Homo sapiens: one gene and its partners. The protein of the gene in region 1 purifies or fractionates together with the protein of each later gene. This does not show direct contact. Each region holds a gene or a part of one and is shown in the gene's direction. Other genes may lie near its edges.

The links.
Region 2: the proteins of LYPD6 (region 1) and MINPP1 purify together in Homo sapiens (affinity purification with mass spectrometry; 3 studies listed by BioGRID and IntAct, with this or other methods). This does not show direct contact.
Region 3: the proteins of LYPD6 (region 1) and SOAT1 purify together in Homo sapiens (affinity purification with mass spectrometry; 3 studies listed by BioGRID and IntAct, with this or other methods). This does not show direct contact.
Region 4: the proteins of LYPD6 (region 1) and SLC47A1 purify together in Homo sapiens (affinity purification with mass spectrometry; 3 studies listed by BioGRID and IntAct, with this or other methods). This does not show direct contact.

Annotation. Positions count from the first base shown.
Region 1 is NC_000002.12:149,466,583-149,473,618, forward strand, and holds part of LYPD6 (ly6/PLAUR domain-containing protein 6 precursor), read left to right. Parts: intron 1-2,062; coding exon 2,063-2,193; intron 2,194-4,100; coding exon 4,101-4,268; 3' UTR 4,269-7,036.
Region 2 is NC_000010.11:87,549,892-87,553,996, forward strand, and holds the end of MINPP1 (multiple inositol polyphosphate phosphatase 1 isoform 1 precursor), read left to right. Parts: intron 1-2,190; coding exon 2,191-2,587; 3' UTR 2,588-3,570; downstream 3,571-4,105. UniProt on the Homo sapiens protein: Multiple inositol polyphosphate phosphatase that hydrolyzes 1D-myo-inositol 1,3,4,5,6-pentakisphosphate (InsP5[2OH]) and 1D-myo-inositol hexakisphosphate (InsP6) to a range of less phosphorylated inositol phosphates.
Region 3 is NC_000001.11:179,345,768-179,352,803, forward strand, and holds part of SOAT1 (sterol O-acyltransferase 1), read left to right. Parts: intron 1-1,832; coding exon 1,833-1,930; intron 1,931-3,076; coding exon 3,077-3,175; intron 3,176-4,528; coding exon 4,529-4,664; intron 4,665-5,549; coding exon 5,550-5,695; intron 5,696-7,036.
Region 4 is NC_000017.11:19,529,442-19,536,865, forward strand, and holds the start of SLC47A1 (multidrug and toxin extrusion protein 1), read left to right. Parts: upstream 1-4,412; 5' UTR 4,413-4,498; coding exon 4,499-4,633; intron 4,634-7,424.

The DNA of each region.
Region 1 (7,036 bases):
TCATTCAATGGAATACGCTCTCCATTATGTATAAGATATTTTGTTAAAGATAGAAAAGTATGAACAAAGAAGTAGTCATATCAAGTTCACCAATTGTTATTTTAAGGCTTACTTAAAACAGGATAATTCACTACTTGGGGGAAAAGGCTGATTTCCAAAACTGCAGCTATGTAGTGATTTACTCATTCCATAAGCCTATGATCTTATCTGCTCGGATTTACATTTGGAGCAGTAAAACCTCTGGCAGCTGCTCTTAGCTGTCTGCATGAAGAGGAGACAGGAGATAAGAACATTCCTGATTTTATTGCTTTCTAGAACATTTGAAGTTGGGGTGGGGGTGGGAAAGATGAACCTATTGTGACCATAAACGTCCATCGAGTCTGATACCAAAGAAGTAAACCAGTCCTCTTAGAAGATGTGGTAAATCTCCCAGGCCACTGGCCTCCATTTGTCAAAACCTGTTAAGGCTTAAAAAAGAGGAGAGCTGCTGCCTCTTCTTCAACAGAAAAGCAATCACTCCAATGTTAAGATAGTTTAGGGCTTTGGGATAATTATTGCCAGGTAGAAAACTTTCAACTATTCTTATTGTGAGCTCCCCAGATGACCTTACCCTACTCCCAAAGAGCTCCATAGGACCCTGGGCAACCTTGGAGCAAGCTTCAGCCCAATCCAACTAACAATTCCAGCCGGGATGCAGTGTGGGACAGCATTTAGGGGAGGGTGTTGCCACAGACTCTGCCCAGGCACACCTGCCAATAGCATCACCACTGGGAAAGTGGCAGCTCTTAGTACGACTTAATTGGAGACCATTTGGGATTCCTGTCAGGTGAGGGTCTCTAGGAAGACTGTTAAAACCCCTGAGTTTTGATGACTTCCAGGATGTGTTGAAGGGTCTGTATTAGCTCATTCTCAAGACCTAAAATTTTCTTACGCTTTCTTCTTTGGACATTAGTTCTTCAGTTAAAAGCTGCCAAAATCATGACAGAATCTGGTGGGGGAGAGGGGAGGAATTTGTATTGCCTAATAAATAATCTCATAGAAGGTCATAATTCCATATTAGCCACTAAATATCTGAAATGTATAAAGCATGCAAAGTTGGATCCAAGATGTGGATGAAAAACAGCTCGGTGACATTTCTTAAGAATTATTCATTTTCTTTTTTAATGTGAAAGTAGAGCAAGAACATTCTCCTAAATCCCAGACTTAGAGAGCTGAACATTGCCTGGAGGCCATAAAGAATTACATTGACAAAGCCATTTTTCTTTAGTTTTTAAATTACACATTAAAAGTTCCCCCAAAGAATTTTGGAAGAGATCTCAAGCTTTCAGATTCATTAGACATAGAGGGACCTCTGGAAACTCCCATCATGGTCTTCATCTGTTGTCCTAGGAAGACACTGAAATCATGCTAGGGAGAAACGAAGCTCCTCAATTTTGGAAAAATGTTCATTATTGTTTCAGTCTTCGTCTGTAATGCACCCTGGACCCAGCTATGCTCATTGGCACAAAGTTTTAAATTGTTCTGCTCTTGTGAATAGCTGCTTCCCCCCAACACACACACACACACACACACACACACACACACACACACACACACACACACACACCAGCCACTGCTGTAGTGTTTTATCTCCTTGAGGACTACTGTTACCTGCCTAACTCATTTTAACCCTGAGTTCTTTGAACCTCTTTGTCCTTTCATCTTCCTTAAAATTGCTATGACTTATACCTCTTAAATCATCCCCGCAAAACCACTCATCCCCTAAAAATAAAAATCAGTCCAGTGGCAAAATTTGTTGAAAGGCAAGGAGAAACCATTGTGTCTTGGTTTATGGGAATAATGCTGGGCAGAGAAATCAATATTCTTTGAAGGTTGTCCTCCTACCATGGCAAAGTGGAGCTCTCCAAAGAGGTCTTTGGGGTTGGACATAAACTCAAAGCAGTGCACATCTTATGTGCTATTAGCTCTTTTCTGGAATGATAATGCTGACACTCCTGTTATTTTCCTTTTAGGCAGGTTTGGTCAACATTTCCCATCTCAAATATATTTTCTCTGTTGACAGAGACCAGATACTGCTACACTCAGCACACAATGGAAGTCACAGGAAACAGTATCTCAGTCACCAAACGCTGTGTCCCACTGGAAGAGTGCTTATCCACTGGCTGCAGAGACTCCGAGCATGAAGGCCACAAGGTCTGGGCAACAGAGCAAGTGACCAGTACTACATAGCCAGCTGCCTTCTCTTCAGACATCTGCCAGTACTCATGAGCAGATTCTTACTCCCCCGTGAAGGCTGTCTTTTGATTGTCTTTATGCTCTATGAAAAGACGCTTCCTTTCCTGTTTACTCTAAAAGAATACACATTTATACCAGAGCATAGGACAACTGATATAAATTGTGTAAACACACATGAAGAGGGTGTTCAGTGTTATTGTAATAACTTTCTTCACTCAGAGGAAAGTAATAAAGCTACCAGAAAAAAGAGGAGCAAGAGACCAGTTATGTCCATCACAGTGAAGCTTTGCAGATGTACCCAGTTCATTCATCACAGGAGGACCGACGCAATTCAGCTTTGATAACTTTCTGTAAAGTAGGGCTCATGTTGTGACTGGGATGTTAGTTTGGGGAGGGTCTCCATTGGCTCTTGAGTCATTTGATAGGTGATGGAGACCCATCTTGTGTGTTCGCTTAAGCTTCACCTGGTACCTGTAGAAGCCTGTATACGGAAACACATGGTGCCTATGTACAGAAGCACTCAGTGTAAAATGAGCTTGGGAGGCAGCCTTGAAGGGGCATATGGACAATCACAGAAAGGCAGCCTTGCCCTCTATACGTGTGTCTATACATGTCTATATGCTGTCTATACGTGTGACCTTAACATAGCATACTTTGGCCTTTATTTAGCAGCTGAACACTTCTGCAGGTGGCCTTCCTGGTGGTTTGGGCAATGTCCATTCTCAATACCTGGGAACAGCACTGTTTCTTAAGAAGGCAGACACCTAATTTTCAAGCAACCTCTTGAATACACTAATAATTAAAATTTTAAATATAATCTGCCTATTCTGCTCCTGGTTCAAAATGAGTAAAACCAAAGGCTTTCCCTGACCTCTCCAGCAAATTGGACTTGATTCTGAGGAGTTACTGTGGCCTCTTTACCAAGGAGAAAGTTAAGGATTAGAGAAATTGGGTCATATGCTCGGTCACACAGCTGGTAAGTGACAGGCACAGAATTCCAACTCACCTCTGGTTTGGAGTCTACCTCCGCAACATTATACTGACTTCCTGGCACGTGTCACTGTGACTAAAGACTCAAATCCCTGCAGGAAAATGACTGTATAGAATGTTATTAATAACCATCCTATGACTAGGAATCACCTGGGAATCTTGTTAAAATGTAGTCCTAATTCTTTGTCTGGGGCAAGGTTTGAGATTCTGCACTTGTAACAAACTCCCAGCTGATGTTGGAGCTGCTGGTCTGTACTTTGTGTAGCCATGCCCCAAGAAAGTTTTTGTCACTAACTCTGTGGGTTTATTTCTTTCTAATGATCCACGAGTAAGGTGGTGTAAAGCAGGAGTAACTGCATGAATGAAAACCCTTCAAACATTAACTCACCCAATGAGAATGGAGACACTTATGCAAACAGTTCTGTGAAAGTCAGTACTCAAGTTTAAACCACCCGGGTTGTTGCCACTTGACTCTCACTTGAAAACTTGGCAAACGAAGGCTTACCCTCTCTTCCTCAAGTAGTCAGAAAGAGCCTCATGGAAAAACACGGACGAGTTTCTTTATTCCCATTTTAAGGGCGAAAGAACTGAGGCCCAGGAAGGCTATACACCTTTGTAAGAATCGTATGGGTGGAGGGTGTCAAAAACAAAACCTAGCTCTCTTGAAGTTTGGCCTGGGGAGTTTTCATGTTGACCAGATTGCTTCTAGAAGAAATATTATCCCCAGCCTTCCTGAACGTAGAGTTGGCATCTCCTTTATAGATTAGGTAATTTTTACTTGCATCTTGCCATGTGGGCGACAGTGCCTTCAAAAACCCTGCCTCCTTCCAAGACATGCTGGCTTCTCATTATCTTTTTTTCTTCCTTTCTTTCAGGTCTGCACTTCTTGTTGTGAAGGAAATATCTGTAACTTGCCACTGCCCCGAAATGAAACTGATGCCACATTTGCCACGACGTCACCTATAAATCAGACAAATGGGCACCCACGCTGTATGTCAGTGATAGTGTCCTGCTTGTGGTTGTGGTTAGGGCTCATGTTATAGTGGCTCAGTGGCTCCATGTGTTAATAGCGATCCATGGGGATCTCGATGGTCCACAGACCTGCATGAGTCATTGGCCTGACAGTAATTACACATGTGAGACACAACACTCTTGGAGGTCATCACAGCCAAGCATTGCCACTTACCATGAGGAATAAATGTTGCTTCATTGTAGCCATTTTGAGTCTAACCGAGACTCATCAAAGCCTTCTGTCAGTACAGCCCAAGTTCCATACCATAAACGTTTGTTTTCATTCCAAGAAGTAGTTCTGCATTTATCGAGATCTGGGGTTCTTAATTTGGAAGAATACATGCATGAGATGCAGTAGGTCCTGAGACTGTAAGATATTAGGAGTATGTTATAGGGGCATGTATAGATGTGGGCTTTTCAGGAGAAAAGTAACCATTGGTTTAAATATAATCATGAGTTCATTTGTAGCTTTAGAATTTTAAAACATTGACTCCAAACTGAATGGACTATTTCCTTGGAAATTCTGACTGAGTCCCTGGAAGAGTAGTAATTCCAACAATTCCAGCCATTTGTTCAATTAATTTTCCCAACATTCTTCTCCCAGTGCTGGGAATCACATTTCCTCTGTTCTGTGCAGAAGACAAAAAGGCAATCATAAAAGTTTGTTATATTTGTGGGGGTGCCTGGAGGAGGATTTTCCTCAACTTAATGGAGCCACTGTCCATAAAGTGGCTGTTATCCCTTCATATAATTGGTGAGATCAGCCTTCTCCTTGACTTGGCACCTAATTATGCTTCATGAGATCCTAGATTCCACCTGAGTCAATTGTGTCCAGAGCCCCAAACCAGGATGGAGTTGTTTTCCCCAGATATGGGGTTCTATTCAGCCATAGATAATCTAGACAGAGGATTTCAGAATGAAAGGAAAAATGTGTGGAGATTAGTCCTAGTTCATTCTGAGGGCCGACTAAGTGGCTCAGCCAGCTTCTTACTCCATCTGCAGTTCATACTGCCAAAGAGCTCCCACTTCCAAATCCCCAGTGACTTTATGGAGAAGATTCTGCATTAAATTGTCTTTCGAATGATGGGGAAGCAAGGCATAATATGCGATGATGAGGAGAAAGTAGACCAGTGAGGTGATTGCAAGACTAACAAGGAGACTCAATGGGAAGTTTTTCTTTCTTTTAGATATTGCTTTTGAAGTAGATGGTAAAATTTTTGTCATCCTTCTTGTATTTTTTGTACCCCAAGTTACAATTTTTCTTCTTCCTTGTAAATAATTTAAACAGTATTTATTTTTGTAAGGCATAACTAGAAACTAAAATATATTCTAAAAAATTCATTATTCTGAACAAAGTGATCAAATTAGAATACATATTTTTCAACAGTGGTAGAGCTTTTAATATATGTTTATTGAAAGTTATCTATAATACTTGCACCAGTGTTGAAAAAAGTTAACATGTAGGCAAGAGCAATATGTTTGTCTCAAGGATTTTTCCATGGTTTCCTCAGTGATGGTGTCCTGGAATTATTCAGGTGGTGACCATCACTGGTCTAAGTTTGTGTGCAGGGTTTTCAGATGTGTTTTTGTGAAACTTGGTAGAACCATGGCTAATAAAGAGGACAGTGTTGTCAGGGTCCATCTGCCCTCCATAGAAAAATGTCTCTGGCTCATAAAATGAGACTCCCTCAGGGACTAAATATGAACTGACAGCAGTAACTCTGATACAGAATAATCTAAATTGCATCAAATGGCCTTAATTCAGAGTTTGTTAGGCTTATCAGTATGTTGCTTTTAATTGGGGTGGGAAAGTAGAGGGAGAGAAAGCAAGACATTTATTAAGCACCTCGTATGTGCCAGGCACTATGCTAAGCACTTTACATAAGTTAGGATTAATCCCTGCAAGAATCCTATAAAGAATGTTACTAGCATTTACACTTCCCAAATGAAGGTACCAAAGCTCAAACGCAATGTTGTGAAGCTGTTTCCTTCAGATTTAGGTTATGTGGGATGATGTGGGATTGAAGAGGAAAGAAAGGTGGGATTATCCCCCTAGGAAGACTTTCAGGCCTGACTTCATAGGAATTCATCCATCTTATCATGTGGAGTTTATCTCACCCTGCTGTTGCAGGATGCTATTTGCATGTGTCCCCAGGTGATGTTTTTTCTTTGGGGAGTAGGGGTTTGGCTTCCTCATTCATCCCTCTTGCTAAAAGAGGAGATAGTTGATGTTGCATCTAAAGATGCTATAAGACAATGAAAGTTTGATGTTGTACATACCTACAAGTACCATTTTTGTGCATGATTACACTCCACTGACATCTTCCAAGTACTGCATGTGATTGAATAAGAAACAAGAAAGTGACCACACCAAAGCCTCCCTGGCTGGTGTAGAGGGATCAGGTCCACAGTGGTGCAGATTCAACCACCACCCAGGGAGTGCTTGCAGACTCTGCATAGATGTTGCTGCATGTGTCCCATGTGCCTGTCAGAATGGCAGTGTTTAATTCTCTTGAAAGAAAGTTATTTGCTCACTATCCCCAGCCTCAAGGAGCCAAGGAAGAGTCATTCACATGGAAGGTCCGGGACTGGTCAGCCACTCTGACTTTTCTACCACATTAAATTCTCCATTACATCTCAATATTGGTAATGGCTTAAGTGTAAAGAGCCATGATGTGTATATTAAGCTATGTGCCACATATTTATTTTTAGACTCTCCACAGCATTCATGTCAATATGGGATTAATGCCTAAACTTTGTAAATATTGTACAGTTTGTAAATCAATGAATAAAGGTTTTG
Region 2 (4,105 bases), on another chromosome or scaffold:
TTAACTTGTATCCTTATTAAATTTCATTATTTAGATGGTGACAGTAGTGTTAGTTTAGACTTGAATATACTCAGATGTATAAAGGGGCCAGGCAAGTAACAAAGGAATGAATTCATCCTATGTTAGACAATGTGGAATGATACATGTGCTGTGTAACAAGTATATGCCCTCTCTACAGGGTGGGTAACCTTATTCCTGTTTAGCTGATTATGGTCTTACGGGTATATATGGACTTGTGTTGCCAGATCTTTCAGATTTCTAAGAAGAGCAAAAATCTGGATTTTTAAGAATCTTAAACCTCTCAATTTTTAAATACTGATAAGTAATGTAAAATTTAAAAATACTTATGCTGGTCAAACTAAATATGGCTGTGTTCTGAATGCTACCGCTTGGTAACTTCAGACCTAAGAGATTGCTTCTTGGAAATAAATACAGGTTTTAGGTATTTTAGATGACCTAATTAAAGTATACCAGTTATGAAGAGAGGCTTGGTAAGCGCCTGTTGATGAATGGCTTTTAAGTTTTACACCTTTTAGAGAATATTAATCTGAAAGTAGTGAATAATTGTCTTTTAGTTTGTTTTGAAATACTGTTAACAGTTTCAGTGTACTTTTTGAGTATATATTTCTAGCGTACTCTTATATATGGAAGTTATTCTGCTCCTTATTTTTTCTTACATGCTTTTCTGTAGTTATTTTGATATGAATTGTTTTCCTGAACATTTAGAAAAAGGTTTGTGTCAGATTGCTTGTCTCATCTCACAGAGCCCCCCCGTTCTGGTGTGTGTACTGTTCAGAAGTATGATGGGTTGTTTTCTGAGATTTCCTGGCTCTGTTCCCCTCCCCCCACTTTCATCTAGACTTACTTTTTCCTTTATCTCTTCTGTCCCTCTCCTGCTTGGCTGAAATTCCACTCCCAGCAGTTTCTCTAGTGTGAGCCCTGTGTTTGGAGAGTTCACAGGAGCTCCAGGATTCTCTAGCCCCGGGCCTCACTGTAGGCCTGCCTTGCACTCACCAAGTCCTGGAGAGGACTAAATACTTCCCAATTTCAGCTGCTATATCCAGTTCACACACAGCGCTTCCAGTGAATACCTGTGGGCTGTTTGGGATTCTCTTGTTCTCAGATTGCTCAGATGCTCTGTGGCTTCTCTCTGCTTTCTTCAACAGATACTGATAATATCTAGTGCTTGAGGTTGGATGCTACTTGGAGTGGTTCATAGAGAATACTTTTCCACCTAGTTATGTTGTAAATGTTTCCCATGGGTTTTTGGATTTGCTATCTGCTTGCTGTGTTTGTGTGTGTTGGGGGCAGAGGGAATCAGGAAGGTCTAGAACTGCTGCTTCTATCCTCCCAGAAAATCCAGATGCACTAAATTGATAACCTGATGAGTGGTGGCAAAAAGTCAGACAGTCATGTTTGAATAGGTTTACAAATTATATTTAAGAAAAATATTATTTTTTCTATAAAGGTAGGGAAAAGGCTAAGCAGTCATTCACTGCTTCTTAATAAAAATTCTTTACCAGAAAAAAAAAATCATAGAAAACTTCAAGAAAAAGAATTGATTCAGCTCAGTGTTGAAAGTGGTTTGTATTCCTGGCACTTTATACTCCCACTCCCAACCAGAGACACATTGTTTCAGCCACAATAGGTTACATCACTAACCTTTTTTGGGTTTTGTAAACCATTAAGGATTACATGAATTACCATGTAATCCTGTTCAGACTTGGTAAGACATTTACTGAATATTGCTTGTTCTTATTCCCTAGATATAAATAAAATAATAACACTTTATTCAAAAGAGCTCCATGGAGTAATATTTACTAAGGGCCAGGTTGCTCAGTTTTATGCACAGAAAGGCAATACAGTGTTGAAATACACATCTGTTTCAAGTTCCCATATCTATAAGACACTTCTCTCTCTTTAAACTTAAAGGAAAATATGTATGCACACTTATATGGATTTACAACAGTACAGTGATCTGAATTTCGGAACTTAACTTTCAGTATAAAAAGTTTAGTTCTCTGCCACACGGAATTTCAGCCGTATGCTTGTGTAATGTATATAAAGATTTAAAAAAATAGATGGGATTATTTAAACTAAAAAAAGATGTGGAAGTTACTCCTAAGTGTAAATACTATGTTCTATGACATTAATATATATACCTTATTTTCTCTTAATTTCTATTTGAAGGTCTCAGCCAATTTCTTCTCCAGTCATCCTCCAGTTTGGTCATGCAGAGACTCTTCTTCCACTGCTTTCTCTCATGGGCTACTTCAAAGACAAGGAACCCCTAACAGCGTACAATTACAAAAAACAAATGCATCGGAAGTTCCGAAGTGGTCTCATTGTACCTTATGCCTCGAACCTGATATTTGTGCTTTACCACTGTGAAAATGCTAAGACTCCTAAAGAACAATTCCGAGTGCAGATGTTATTAAATGAAAAGGTGTTACCTTTGGCTTACTCACAAGAAACTGTTTCATTTTATGAAGATCTGAAGAACCACTACAAGGACATCCTTCAGAGTTGTCAAACCAGTGAAGAATGTGAATTAGCAAGGGCTAACAGTACATCTGATGAACTATGAGTAACTGAAGAACATTTTTAATTCTTTAGGAATCTGCAATGAGTGATTACATGCTTGTAATAGGTAGGCAATTCCTTGATTACAGGAAGCTTTTATATTACTTGAGTATTTCTGTCTTTTCACAGAAAAACATTGGGTTTCTCTCTGGGTTTGGACATGAAATGTAAGAAAAGATTTTTCACTGGAGCAGCTCTCTTAAGGAGAAACAAATCTATTTAGAGAAACAGCTGGCCCTGCAAATGTTTACAGAAATGAAATTCTTCCTACTTATATAAGAAATCTCACACTGAGATAGAATTGTGATTTCATAATAACACTTGAAAAGTGCTGGAGTAACAAAATATCTCAGTTGGACCATCCTTAACTTGATTGAACTGTCTAGGAACTTTACAGATTGTTCTGCAGTTCTCTCTTCTTTTCCTCAGGTAGGACAGCTCTAGCATTTTCTTAATCAGGAATATTGTGGTAAGCTGGGAGTATCACTCTGGAAGAAAGTAACATCTCCAGATGAGAATTTGAAACAAGAAACAGAGTGTTGTAAAAGGACACCTTCACTGAAGCAAGTCGGAAAGTACAATGAAAATAAATATTTTTGGTATTTATTTATGAAATATTTGAACATTTTTTCAATAATTCCTTTTTACTTCTAGGAAGTCTCAAAAGACCATCTTAAATTATTATATGTTTGGACAATTAGCAACAAGTCAGATAGTTAGAATCGAAGTTTTTCAAATCCATTGCTTAGCTAACTTTTTCATTCTGTCACTTGGCTTCGATTTTTATATTTTCCTATTATATGAAATGTATCTTTTGGTTGTTTGATTTTTCTTTCTTTCTTTGTAAATAGTTCTGAGTTCTGTCAAATGCCGTGAAAGTATTTGCTATAATAAAGAAAATTCTTGTGACTTTACTACCAGGACTTTTCTCTTCCCCATGTCAAAATACAATCAATAATTGATGGTAAAAGTTTGGAAATTCAAGCAGATTTGACTCACCTGGCAATTTTTTTTTATTTTTTATTTTTGTTATACTTTTAAGTTCTAGGGTACATGTGCACAACATGCAGTTTTGTTACATATGTATACATGCACCATGTTGGTATGTTGCACCCATTAACTTGTCATTTACATTAGGTATATCTCCTAATGCTATTCCTCCTCCCTCCCCCTACCCCACGACAGGCCCCAATGTGTGATGTTCCCCTTCCTGTGTCCAAGTGTTCTCATTGTTCAGTTCCCACCTATGAGTGAAAACATGCGGTGTTTGGTTTTTTGTTCTTGCGATAGTTTGCTGAGAATGATGGTTTCCAGCTTCATCCATGTCCCTACAAAGGACATGAACTCATCGTTTTTTATGGCTGCATAGTATTCCATGGTGTATATGTGCCACATTTTCTTAATCCAGTCTATCATTGATGGACATTTGGGTTGGTTCCAAGTCTTTGCTATTGTCACCTGGCAATTTAAAGCAATTTTCTTTGAATAGAAATTTCCTCAAATAATGGATTTGTTAATGCAT
Region 3 (7,036 bases), on another chromosome or scaffold:
TCAAACTCCTGGGCTCAAGTTATCCTCCTGTCTCAGCCTCTCAAAGTGCTGGGGTTACAGGCTTGAGCCACCATGCTTGGCCTTTTGCCACTATTTCTTATTTTCCTCCTGTCTTTCCGACCATACCTTGATTTCTTAAATATATTTATTGCATTTTTTTGTCTATTATAGAGATATATGAGTACCTAGTACTATGCCAGGTGCAGAGGACTCAGAAGTGAACAAGAGATGTATTATCTTTACAGTCTGGGAGCTTTTATAGTTTCCCTTACTTTTCCTCTTTTCTTTACTCATTGAATGTTGGTAATGTTTTCTGTCATCACCTTCCCTTTCTTTTCTTCTCTTGCATTCCTCTTCCAGTAACCCTCCCTCACCAGCCCCAGGACTTATTTGAATGAACTCTGTATCTGTCCCTAAAATAGAATATGTGTTACATACTTGAGTGTCTTCCTCACTAGCTGCAAAGTTATTGAGTTCAAGGATTGTGTTTTATAGCCAATCACAGTCTCTCTCATATTGTCTGGTACATAGTTGATGCTCTATAAATATATATTTTTCAATAAATGAGTGAAAGAGATGGACATATAAATGGATATTTTACAATATATTGTAATATGTACTACATAAGTAGGATAAACAAAATGCTTATGGCCTTTGTTTCACATTAGAGATAACATTTAATATTGGGTATTGAAAAATAGGTAGGTATTTGCCTGGCAGAGAATTGGTGGAAAGGTCATTCTAGGTAGTGGGATGGATGCAAGGGCATGGAGCATTCTGGAATGGCATAAACCCAGTTGTGGATAATGTTTACAACACTTAGAGGGTAGAATCACTGGAGATATGTTTAGAATGTTATCCATGTCACTATGTTAACCATGTCACTATTAACATTTTGGACTGGTTAATTCTTTGTTTGGAGTGGCATTCTTCTGCATTGTAGCATAAACTGTTCAGCAGCATCCTGGCCTCTAACAACTAGATACCAGTGGCACCACTCCCTCTCCTCCAATTGTCACAGCACTGGTGCAGTAGCTTGCACCGGTAGTCCCAGCTATTCTGGAGGCTGAGGTGGGAGGATCACTTGAGCCCCAGGAGTTGAAGTTCAGCCTGGGCAACATAGTGAAACCCTGTCTTTTAAAAACAAAAAGTCTCTAGAATTTCAAATGTCCTGTGGGGGAGAGGGGGCAAAATCTCTCCCAGTTTTAAACAATTGTTTAAGAGGGGGGTATGGGGGCCAGATTTTTAAAGGACCTTGGGTACTAAGTTAAGCCATATATTTAGGCATTTCTTAAAAACAGACTGGGTAGGCTGGGCGCGATGGCTCACGCCTGTAATCCTAGCACTTCGGGAGGCTGAGGTGGGCAGATCACAAGGTCAGGAGATTGAGACCTGCCTGGCCAACATGGTGAAACCCGGTCTCTACTAAAAATACAAAAAATTAGCCAGATGTGGTGGTACATGCCTGTAGTTCCAGCTACTTGGGAGGCTGAGGCAGGAGAATTGCTTGAACCCTGGAGGCAGAGGTTGCAGTGAGCCGAGATCGCGCCACTGCACTCCAGCCTGGGTGACAGAGCAGGACTCTGTCTCAAAAAAGAAAAAAAAAAACCAGACTGGGTAATGTCATTTGTTGAACCCACTTTGAAGGAAGTTACTGTTTTAAAATTAAGATAATTAACTCCAAAAGTATATCATCTCTGGAATGGGTAAACTGGAATAATAACTTATATTTTACAAAATAATCCCAGCTAAATAAAATGATGTGATATAATTAGTTGCTTGGTATGTGAGCTATTTGGAAAGACTGTTAATATTGTTAATCTTATTTTTAGGTGTGCTGATTCTCTTCCTTACTTTTTTTGCCTTTTTGCACTGCTGGCTCAATGCCTTTGCTGAGATGTTACGCTTTGGTGACAGGATGTTCTATAAGGTAGTATATACTTAGACTTAGCTTTCTTTTTACATTTTATTAACTTCTTCATTATTAGTATTTTGACATTGTTGGCTAATGTCACCAGCCTTTCACACAAACATTGTGAAATAATTTTCTTTTCTACAAGTTTTGCCAGTATTTTCTGAAATTCGGTTACAGATATAACTAGCATAACCTTGTGTTTTCTTCTGTCTCTAATATCTGCTCCCTTAACATAAGCACATGGTTTCTGCTGGATCCTGCAAGGATATATTGGTGATTCCAGTAGGAAACTGTTTGTTCAGAGCACACCATGAGACTTCCCTGAGTGTTCATTCATTTGAAATGGACCGTCTAGTTCTGTAGGAATGACCTCAGCAAATTATTCCATTTAAGACAATTGAGCAGTTCATGAGGGAAATAACTTTTCCCTCTTTAGTTTTGAAAGGTGTTAATTTTGCTTCAGATAGTATCCTTATGCTTCTAAAGTTGGAATTAAGCTATAGAATTAGAGTCAGAATGGCTCATAGCATTCTTTAACCCTACCTAAAGCTCTCTTTGAGTTGTTTTTGGCAACACTCCAAGTCTACCACCTTTTTTCTCAAAGAAACTTTAAGTGTGGATTGCAGATTTTAGATACCTGATTTCATTCATCTGATCTTAATATTGGGAGCAAGAAGCATATATAGGGATACCAGGACTTTGAGGTAGCCACCATCTCACCCTGGATAATTTTGCCATTTATGGTAACCACCAAACAGCTCTCTAGTGTTAGCACTCTCTCTGGTCTTCATGACCATAGAATTTTCTCATGACATTCTAGTAGGGTAAGGGGGGTGGGGCTTACTGATTGCTGTTTAGATGAACATTAGATTTAAATGATTCTATGTGTTCCGTATGAACCTAGGAACTAAATCATATATAGTATGAGAATTCATGTCATATTCAACACTAATAACCAAAATGCCTTTGAAGATTTTTCTGTCACCAGTGTATGAACCAACAGTTTATCACAGTATAATTTGATTTTTCTGTTACATATGTTCTTTGGGAAGTCAGGGGGGTTTGCTTTCGGGTGGGATGTGTGTGTGTGTGTGTGTGTGTGTGTGTGTGTGTGTGTGTGTGTGTGTGTGTGTAGTTTTATACCTTTACTTTTTCCCTCAGGATTGGTGGAACTCCACGTCATACTCCAACTATTATAGAACCTGGAATGTGGTGGTCCATGACTGGCTATATTACTATGCTTACAAGGACTTTCTCTGGGTAAGTAGCAAGGTTTAAGTTGATATTATTTATGAAATGGAGATTCTTTTTCAGAAAGTATGAGTATTATACAGCTGGAAGAAGTTATATTTAATTGCTCATGAGGAAAGGGTGATAGTATCTTTTCAGTTTTCTTTTGAGAAATTTACATCTAGAAACCTGCTTTGAATGGTACTGCTTAGAAACCACTGTGTGTACACTAGTAGGTCTAATACTGTGTCTTTTGCTCTGAATTTTATCTTACATAACAAAGTAAGAATGCATGGAGGTTGTTGGAGTTGAAATGATCCACCAATAATGGATAGTTTCTTATGAGTCTTGTTGCCAACAAATAATCTCCCTTTGGTCTTTTTCATTCGTTTTTCATGGTTAAAGGTAGAGAAACACTTTTTTTTTTTTTTTTTGAGAGAGTTTCGCTCTTGTTGCCCAGGCTGGAGTGCAGTGGCATGTTGTCGGCTCACTGCAACCTCCTCCTCCCGGGTTCAAGCGATTCTCCTGCCTCAGCCTCCCAAGTAGCTGGGATTACAGGCATGCACCACCACGCCCAGCTAATTTTCTATTTTTAGTAGAGATGGTGTTTCTCCATGTTGGTCAGGCTCATCTTGAACTCCCGACCTTAGGTGATCCGCCCGCCTCAGCCTCCCAAAGTGCTGGGATTACAAGCATGAGCCACCGTGCCCGGGTGAGAAACACTTTTCTGTGAGAAACACTTTTGTGTGGATTTTGTATCTCTCCAATCAGTGACACCTGGCTTTGAGACATTCTTTAGAGCAGAATATACTTAGACTGATGAGATGTAATCTTGAATCTCCTGGTTGATAAACAGGTATCTAGATTACAGTTTTTATTAAGTGAGGGCACCATTTGGCTTAGTGACAGCATCTTATGGTGGAAATAGCATTGTATTAATATTTGAGTGCTAATTCTGTCATTCAAGTGTAGTTTCACATACGGATAAGGCAAGTCCCTTTTCTCCTTCTGAAATCTTAGTTTTGTTATGTGTAAAAATGGAGAGGACAGTTGCCCCATCTACCATACAGTGTTACTCTAAAGACTGAAATTCAATATGTTTCATTTATATAGGAAAACTATGTTTTGTCAGTTGTAATAACTTACAAACATAAGTTATTGATATTTTTGAAAATAGACTCAGATATTTGAACAATAATAAGAGTTTGTAAGTGTATATGATTTGTAGTTATTTTAATAGACTTGGATTAATCCAAGGAGTAGACTTAGAAAATTAAGTACAAATACAATAGGTGCCTTTGGCATATAATTTTACATCCTATATAATCCATGCTTGCTTTAAATTTTTAAAAATTACTTTGTAGTGTTTTCCTTTTTCTTTAGTTTTTCTCCAAGAGATTCAAATCTGCTGCCATGTTAGCTGTCTTTGCTGTATCTGCTGTAGTACACGAATATGCCTTGGCTGTTTGCTTGAGCTTTTTCTATCCCGTGCTCTTCGTGCTCTTCATGTTCTTTGGAAGTAAGTATCTTGGTATGCTGTGAGTACTGGGTACTATGCTAAAAAAGAAAACCAGATAGAAAGGAAACTATAAAATCAATGTAGGAGAACTAGATAGTAGTAGTAACATTTTAAGGTAGTACTTCTTTATCAGATGGTCAGAATATTGACTTTGAATAATTATACACAGCTCTGTCTCAAGATATTTACACTTTGAAGTAGGGAAATGAACTAGGTAACCTCATGAAGACCATTGATAACACTGATTTGATAGGTCATAAAAGTTATCTATATAAACAGCTTTCCCATTCGTAAACATTGTCGGTATGCACCCCCTAGAAAACTGACAAGTTTTTGAGTGAGTAGAGAGGGAAAAGTTGGAATATGAATATTCTAATTCCATGAAATATATATACACATGTTCTGAAAACACTGATTTCTTGTAAGTTACTGATTTTAACACTGAAGCTTTATTTTTCTTTATAGAAACAGTGACCAGAATAAAAAAATATATAAACAGTTGTTGCTCACTGTGATTATTAAATAACAGCAGATACCTGAGGTCCCTCATCTTCTGATAAATTATGTTTTGATACCTGTATATTTCTTTCTTTTTTTTTTTTTTTTTTTTTTTTTTTTTTTTTTTTTTTGAGACAGAGTTTCACTCCTGTGACCCAGGCTGGAGAGCAGTGGTATGATCTCAGCTCACTGCAACCTCTGCCTCCCTGCTTCAAGTGATTCTCCTGCCTCAGCCTCCCGAGTGGCTGGGATTACAGGCACACACCACCACGCCTGGCTAATTTTTGTATTTTTAATAGAGATGGGGTTTCACCATGTTGGCCAGGCTGGTCTCGAACTTCTGACCTCTGATAACTGTATATTTCTTTGTTGCCTTCCTATTTTTAGTGGCTTTCAACTTCATTGTCAATGATAGTCGGAAAAAGCCGATTTGGAATGTTCTGATGTGGACTTCTCTTTTCTTGGGCAATGGAGTCTTACTCTGCTTTTATTCTCAAGAATGGTATGCACGTCAGCACTGTCCTCTGAAAAATGTGAGTCACCAACCTGGTTGGAGTGCAAAAGAACCTGTTTATTCTCTGTTTGTGAGAGTTGGTGGGCAATGTTGAGGAGCACAGTAGTGGAGATTATGATGAATTAGTGTTAAAGAGAGGGAAATGAGGAGTAAAAGCATTAGTTTATCATCTGATCTTATTGTACTTGAAGTTTTTCCTTTTGTTTAGTTTTCTTCACATTTAACTCTCCTAGCTTTTGGTTTTCTTCTTTTACTGCCTTTTCTTCAGCCCCTTCTAATTTTTTTTTTTTTTTTGAGACAGAGTCTCACTCTGTCGCCCAGGCTGGAGTGCAGTGGTGCAATCTCAGCTCACTGCAACCTCTGCCTCCCGGATTCAAGTGATTCTCCTTCCTCAGCCTCCCGAGTAGCTGGGATTGCAGGAGCATGCCACCATGCCCGCTAAATTTTTGTATTTTTAGTAGAGATGGGGTTTCACCATGTTAGCCAGGATGGTCTTGATCTCCTGACCTCATGATCCGCCCACCTCGGCCTCCCAGAGTGCTGGAGCCACCGTGCTCAGCCAGCCCCTTCTAAGTATTCTCCAGGGTTTTCCTAATGCCATGTATGTCCCTACTACCACCACCTAAAACATACCTTTTTTTTTTTTTAAACCTCTTTCTTCTAAATAAACTCTTGTAAAAATATTGGGCAACACTGAGATCCTTCCATTTCTCTTGATTCTATTTTTGTTTTTGGTAATTCAGGTTTCATTTATTCTTAGGACTTTAGTTTTTAGCTATACATGGGTACAGATTTTAGGAGGATGGCTTTTTTTTTTTTTAAGAATTTTATTTTCAAGTAACACAGTATAGGACATAGGAATTTCCCAGCAAACACTCTGGTTAATTTAATTGATGTGATCTGGTTAATTAGATCTACTAGCACTAGCTGAAAGTACTGCTTATAGTTATGGATAGAATTTCATGATGGAAACACCCTAAGAAGTAGGATTGCCAGGCTTTTTGTGCATATAGGGCGTGTCCTATATTTAACATTTTTGTCCTGCCTCCTGTATTGGGTTTCTTAGAACACCCCAAATGTCCTATATTCTGCTTTTTTCAGTAAATTACAAAAAATATGGCAGATAGAGCTATTTGTCTCAAGTTCATCTCGGCATCCTGTACTTGTATTTGCTAAATTTGGTGGCCCTACTAATAATTCATTCAATCCCTACAACCTTCCAGGTTTGGAGGGGATACCTTCTTGATTTATTTCCTGGGTATTTCTCATAGGCATCTGTAACTGAAGATGTCCATAATGAAATTAATCAGTTTCCTCTCCAAAGCTTCCCCTCTTTCTGTGTACCCTATGTCTGTTAGGC
Region 4 (7,424 bases), on another chromosome or scaffold:
AAGATGCAAAGGTTATCCTGGGTTATCGGGTGGGCCTAATGGAATCTCTTTTTCTGAGAGGAAGACAAGAGAGTAAAAGCTGGAAAAAGGAGACGTGATGAAAGAACAGAGGCTGCAGTGATGTGCTTTGGAGATGGAGGAAGAGGGAGGCGGCATCTAGAAGCAGGAACAGGCAAGGGAATGGATTCTTCCTGAGCCCTAGCAAGAACGCAGCTCTGCTGACACCTTGATTTCAGCCTCACGGAACCCATTTCAGGCTTCTGACCTCTGTTAAATAGTAACTTTGTGTTATCATAAGCTATTAAATTTGTGGTAATTTGTTACAGCAGCAATCAATAAACACTTATCATGAATGACCAAAATTAATTCAAGAAGAGGTTAAACAAAACCCTGAATAGACCAGCAACTTCTAAATAAACAGAAAACCTTTTATTTTTTTTCTTATTTTTAAATAAAATACCCCTTCTATAAAGGCATCAGATGGTCCTCTAGGTGAGTGGCCTTCAAACCTTCAAGAAACAGATCATTCTTATGGTATTTGAATAATTACAGAGCCTAAAGATTCACGGAAGCCAGGCGCAGCAGCTCACGCCTGTAATCCCAGCACTTTGGGAGGCCAAGGCAGGAGGACTGCTTGAGCCTAGGATTTCAAGACCAGCCTGGGCAACATAGTGAGACCCCTGTCTGTATAAAAATAAATAAATATAAAAATCCTGAATATAATATTAGCAATAAATCTACCACTATATACCTGTTATAGTATACTATTATGAATAAGGGAAGTTTATTCCAGGAATCAGTGACAGCTAAACATTAGGAAATCTACAATGAACTTACACTAACAACCGAAAAGAGAAGAAAAATTTGATTATTTCAATTAATACTAAATATATATATATATATATAGAGCACAGTGGCTCATGCCTGTAATCCCAGCACTCTTGGAGGCCAAGGCAGGAGGATCACTTTGAGCTCAGGAGTTTGAGACCAGCCTAGGCAATATAGTGAGACCTCTTTGTCTCTATAAAAAATATGAAAATAGGCTGGGCATGGTGCCTCATGCCTGTAATCCCAGCACTTTGGGAGGCCAAGGCAGGTGGATTACCTGAGGTTGAGACCAGCCTGACCAACAAGGAGAAACCCCAACTCTACTAAAAAAAAAAAAATTCAAAATTAGTCGGGTGTGGTGGCACATGCCTGTAATCCCAGCTACTCGGGAGGCTGAGGCAGGTGAGTTGCTTGAACCCAGGAGGCAGAGGTTGCGGTGAGCCAAGATCGCACAATTGCACTCCAGCCTGGACAACAAGAGTGAAACTCTGTCTCAAAAAAAAAAAAAAAAAAAAAAAGGAACAAGAAAACAAAATTAGCCGGGTGTGGTGGCACATGCCTGTAGTCCCAGCTCTTCAGGAGGCTAAGGTGGGAGAATTGCTTGAGCCAGGGAGGTCGAAGCTGCTTTGAGCCGAGATCAAACCATTGCATTCCAGTCCAGGCGACAGAGAGAGACCCTGTCCCCCCGAAAAGAAAAAAAAAAAACCCTGATAAAATTCAATTTTAATACATGCTTTTAATAATATATTTCAGCAAGTTAAGAACCGTATATGAACATACTTATGACTATTTATCAAGCATCAATAACAAATTCATCATATCCCTAGTCCAGTGAGTCTCCCATTCCCTAGATGAGTACTGATTAGACTAGGGATATGATTGAAATAGAAGACAGAATTTTAACGAGGTGCATTCTTTCTGAATAAATCTGCAGATATAATGCAATGTCAATCAAAATCCTAACACTTTCCAAGTAACAGGGTTCTTTGTTCTTTTAATTGTTTTGTTTTTTGTTTTTTATTGAGATAGGGTCTCACTCTGCTGCCCAGGCTGGAGTGCTGTAGTGCAATCATAGCTCACTGCAGCCTCAAACTGCGGGGCTCAGTCGATCCTGTCACCTCAGCCTCCCAAAGTGCTGGGGCTACAGGTGTGGGCTACTCACCTGTACAATGTGCTCAGCCAACCACACGTTGTTTTAAAAGCTATTTACCAGCCAATAGAGCTACTTCTTTCCTCCTTACTTTTCTTTTTCAGAGTTTTTGTTATATCTTTTCCTGTTTACACTATCAATTGCTTTTAGAATCATTCTATTAAATTTTAAAATAATGGAATACACAGTAGTGGACTAAAACCTAATATATTAATTGAAAATTAATTTTCCTGTGCTACTTTTTGGAAGGAAGTCACTGTGTACAATCCACCTTTAAGGAGTGAGGAGTTATGCTCTGTATCACGAGGACCTTTTGTTTTTTGTTGCTATTGTGAAAGATTTCTTTTAGTATTTTCATATATGTTATTACCAATATAAAGGACTGATATGACTTGTTGAAGAACTTCTATGTAGCAACTTTATTAAACCCCTTTATCAATTCTATTAGCTTTTGTTCATATTTTATTTCTTTGGGTTGTGTGGATTTTTTTTAAGAGATGGGGTCTCACTGTGTTGCCCAGGCTGGTCTCAAAACTCCTGGGTTCCAGTGATCCTCCCACCTCGGCCTTCCAAAGTGTTGGGATTATAGGCATGAGCCACTGTGCCTGGCCCGGTCTGTCAATTTCTACTGTGAGTAATCCCTTTGCCTTTTCTTTCCTAACATTATACATTACATTTCCATTTCCTGTCTTATTACATCAGTCAGGACTTCCAGAAAATTATCAAAAAACAGCAGTGATCAGAGATCTAGTGAATATCCTCGGGTATTTGTCTGTTGACACTCTCAGTTCTTTTGGGAAACTGCGCTACTCCATATGTACAGTCCTTGTGGGACGAGACCAGTCACAGGGCACCTAACCCTAACCCTGTAGGTTCAAAGCTGGGTGCATGGTCCAGGGCCAGCCAAACATCAGACCCTATTTTCCCACCCAGGGCGATTGTTCCAGAGGTGGGCAAGAAACCTAAGCAGGGCCAACCAGATTTTCTCCCAGTTTTTTGTTTGTTAGTTTGGAACCAGAAGAGAGGAGGGGAGGGCCTTACTTTCTGGTTTAACAGACGGGAAAGATAGGAACGAGGGTATCAGAGGCCACCACTGTCACTTGCACAGGAAGAGAAAGGCTGCCGGCAGAGGAGGAAGAGAAACTACGGAAAGAATCCCAAGGGGCGAGGAGAAGGGAGGAGAGGGACAGAGATGGGAAGAGGGACAACAAGAATGATCTGGTTTTGTTTTTTTTTTTTTTTTGAGTGGAGTCTCCCTCTGCCACCAGGCTGGAGTGCAGTGGCGAGATCTCGGCTCACTGCAACCTCTGCCTCCCGGGTTCAAGCAATTCTCCTGCCTCAGCCTCCCTAGTAGCTGGGATTATGGCGCGCGCCACCATGCACAGCTAATTTTCGGTACAGACGGTGTTTCACCATGTTGGCCAGGATGGTCTCGATCTCTTGACCTTGTGATCCGCCCGCCTAGGCCTCCCAAAGTGCTGGGATTACAGGCGTGAGCCACCGCGCCTGGCCTAATGACCTTGTTTTCAAATCCCTGAATCCAAACTTCCTGATTATGTGAGCCAAAAAATTTGTTTTCCATTTTCTCTACTTACATTGGATCATTACAACGGAAGGAATTTTGACTATTAGAGAAATCAATCTTGTCCTGGTAACTGACACTTATTAGGTAACGGCTGGTGCCAGGCTGAGGGCAGGTGGCACTGACTCCGGTCCTCCGCCCAGGCAACCCCAGTCTTCACAGCTGGCGACGAGTGTTCTTTCACGTTTGCAGATGAGGAAGCTGAGGCTCTGGGAGGAAAGCGCGCTGCTCCTGCCCTTCTGGGCCGCAGCCTCTCGTACTCCCACAGCAGGCTTGATGGATAAACTTCCAACACGACCAGCTGGCACAAACTGTGCTACTTGGCAAATGGGAGCATGTTGCTCTATCCTGGTAGATTCTAAGTTCTCTAATGGAACAACTGATGAGAGGAGAGGAGTATGCAACACCCTAACCAGCATCAAAGGGTGTACCCAACTCAATCTGCACAGCAAATGCGCCCAACCCCACACACCCCGCGGGGTGCTAACCGAGTCACGGCTCGAGGCCTCTGGGTCCTTCCACGCCAGGTCATTCAGAACCTGAAACCCCCAGCGGAGGTGGAGAGCCGGGGTGAGTCCTGGCGTCCGAGACGTGGAGGACCCAGCCCCCGGAGCGCGTTCCGTTAGTTTACAGAGCTTTTTCAAACTTTGCCTTCCAAGTGCAGGAGTTCCTTGGTCTTTGCAAGACCCGCAGGCGTCCGCAGTGGTGCAGAGAGAGGTGCAAGGGGCGCGCCCAAGGTCGCAGGCTGCCTGGCTGCGCGCTCAGTCGGGCCCCCGGGCGCCAGGCGCGGGGCGGGCTCTGGGCGGGCGGCCGGGGCGGGGACTGCAGAGCAGGCTGCACTGCGCGGTACCCACTGCCGGCCTGCGCGGTACTCACTGCCGGCCTCCGCGGTACCCACTGCCGGCCTCCGCGCTACCCGGCCGCAGCGCGCGAGTCACATGGAAGCTCCTGAGGAGCCCGCGCCAGTGCGCGGAGGCCCGGAGGCCACCCTTGAGGTCCGTGGGTCGCGCTGCTTGCGGCTGTCCGCCTTCCGAGAAGAGCTGCGGGCGCTCTTGGTCCTGGCTGGCCCCGCGGTGAGTAAGGTGGCCTCAGTGGCAGGCCGGTACCGGCGGGCTGGGGACCTGGTGATTTCTGCCTCCGCGGGTGACTTTGGCGGGCTTTGGGGACCGAGCGAGCTGTCCGCCGGCGGGCTCCGGGGAGCATCGTGCCAGGAGCCGGGCGGGCACCCCAGCTCCTCTGCCTGCGTCCCGGCCGCTTTCCGCTCCGCACCACCCGACTGGGGGCCCCGCGGGGCACTGCGGGAACGGCTGGTACGCGCCCGGGCGCATGTTGGCTCGGAGAGGCCGGCGGCTCCAGCCTCCTGCGCCAGGAGACACCGGAGAGCTGGGACCTTTGCCCCTAACGGGGCTCTACCAGGTCCAGGCTGCATTTGCATCCGGGGGTGCCTTCTCTGGGAGCTGATTCCGGCCAATAAAACGCAAGTTGCCTGAACTTCAAAACACAAGGGAACTTGTTTCTTTGAAAAGTAGCGGTCAAAAGTTCGGGAGCTCTGCGATCTAAATAATCCCGAGGCACGGAGGAGGGGGTGCGTGGTCTGTCGTGGACTCAGAGCTGCGAAATGATTTCTTCAGAATTCAGTCAACCTCTACCGAGGAAACCAGAGGCATCCTGTACCACCCCCTCCCCGCCAGTAATTATGTATGTGAAAGAAAAAAGGGGTTTTAATGTGGTTCTTTGTGGGGTCGAGGTGTTCTTATCTGTGGGATTCTTTTCTTTTTAATCATTAGGTTAGGGCTGTTTCTGCCTTGTCTCCTAAAAATAATGTGGTTTTAAAAACCACAAAAACACAATCCTATCCACGTTCTCCTGCCAGCTTGGGTGGTTTTCAAACCGAGAGGGTAGGACGCGGCACAAGAAGCAACTGGTATGCACTTAAGGCGTGAATAAGCTTTTGACTTTGAGGCCCACATTCTGCACCTGCGCGGGCTGAGGGGGGCCGCTGTGCCTCTGGAGTGGGGGCTCGGTAGTTTGTGGGATATTGTGGCACCCGCTGTGGTGTGCAGGACAGCAAGGGTAATGCCGAGGTCAAAGCCATGGAATAAGATCCATCAGCCATGCTTTCTCACAGACCAGAAAGAACTCATGATTTGGGGCTGGGCGCGGTGGTTCACGCCTGTAATCCCAGCACTTTGGGAGGCTGAGGCAGATGGATCACTTGAGGTCAGGAGTTCGAGACCAGCCTGGCCAATATGGTGAAACTCCGTCTCTACTAAAAATACAAAAATTAGCCAGACGTGGTGGCGGGCGCCTGTAGTGCCAGCTACTCCAGAGGCTGAGGCACGAGAATCGCTTGAACCTGGGAAGTGGAGGTTACAGTGAGCCAGGATGGTGCCACTGCACTCCAGCCTGAACAACAGAGTAAGACTTGGTCTCAAAAAACAAAACAAAACAAAACAAAAACACCTCATGGCTGGGCGTGGTGGCTCACGTCTGTAATCCCAGCACTTTGGGAGGCCAAGGCAGGCGGATCACGAGGTCAAGAGATTGAGACCATCCTGGCCAACCTGGTGAAACCCCGTCTATACTAAAAATACAAAAAATAAAAAATAAAAATTAGCTGGGCATGGTGGCAGGCGCCTGTAATTCCAGCTACTTGGGAGGCTGAGGCAGGAGAACCGCTTGAACCCGGGAGGCGGAGGTTGCAGTGAGCCCAGATCGCGCCATTGCACTCCAGCCTGGGCAAAAAAACACCTCATGATTTGGAATCTCAAGACCTGGGGCTGCGTGCCCTGCTTTGACCTCCGAAAGTAAGTCAGGAAGCAGCTGTGCAGATTGAAACAGCCTCCTAACCTCTTCTGGTCTCTGCATATTCATTTGTAAAATGGAGATAATAATCATGTCTTGGTTCAACACTCCCTCACAGAGCTGCTGTGAGAAGGGGCTTTCTAAGGCTATTATTGTTTTATTATTATTATTATTTTTTGAGACAGGGTCTTGATCTGTCGGCCAGGCTGGAGTGCAGTGGTGTGATCACAGCTCACTGCAGCCTCAACTTCTGGAGTAGCGGAGATTACAGGCACACACCACCATGCCTGGCTAATTTTTGTATTTTGGGTTAGAGATAGGGTCTCCCTGTGTTGCCCATTGCTTGAATTCCTGGGCTAAAGCAATCCTCCTGCCTCGGCCTCCCAAGAGCTGGGATTATAAGCATAAGCCACCTTGCCCAGCCTGTTATTGCTTTAATAGTATAGCAATAATAATAATAATAATAATAATAATAACAGGGCAGGTTTCTGAAATCCAGCCCTCCCAGTAGCCTGATCCCCTTGATGTGGGGGACCTCTCCAGGTCTCCAGGGATGAGCACTAGACTGACATGCTGGGGACCTCACCTTTTCTCTTTGTATGTACATATATGTATACCATTGTGTTTATTACAAATGTCATGCATATTTACTGTAGAAAAAAATAGAAAACCAAGACCAACAATAGGAAAAAACCCTCTGAAATCTCACCGCTGAGAGGTAATTTGGGAGCTTTCCTTCTAGTCCTTTGTGTGTGTGTGTCTCTGCTTTGTGAAAATGTGATTGTAGAGTTTTGCTACCTGCTTAGTCTCTCATGAAGTGTATGTGGACCGGCCTGGGTCTGTCTCCCATCTCTAATCCCATCTGCTATAAAGTTTTCTGTTTACTAAAGGGCATGGGATAAGGAGAGACCACCCCCTTCTTTTCCCATGCTCATTGTCCAATACTTTCTTCTCCAAGTGTCCAACATAACATGAGGAAGATGCCCTGTCTGGCTCTCCTCTCTGTAATTTTCTCTCTCATTTGCCATCTCCCTTCCAGACCTCTCAAGTTAACCCTGA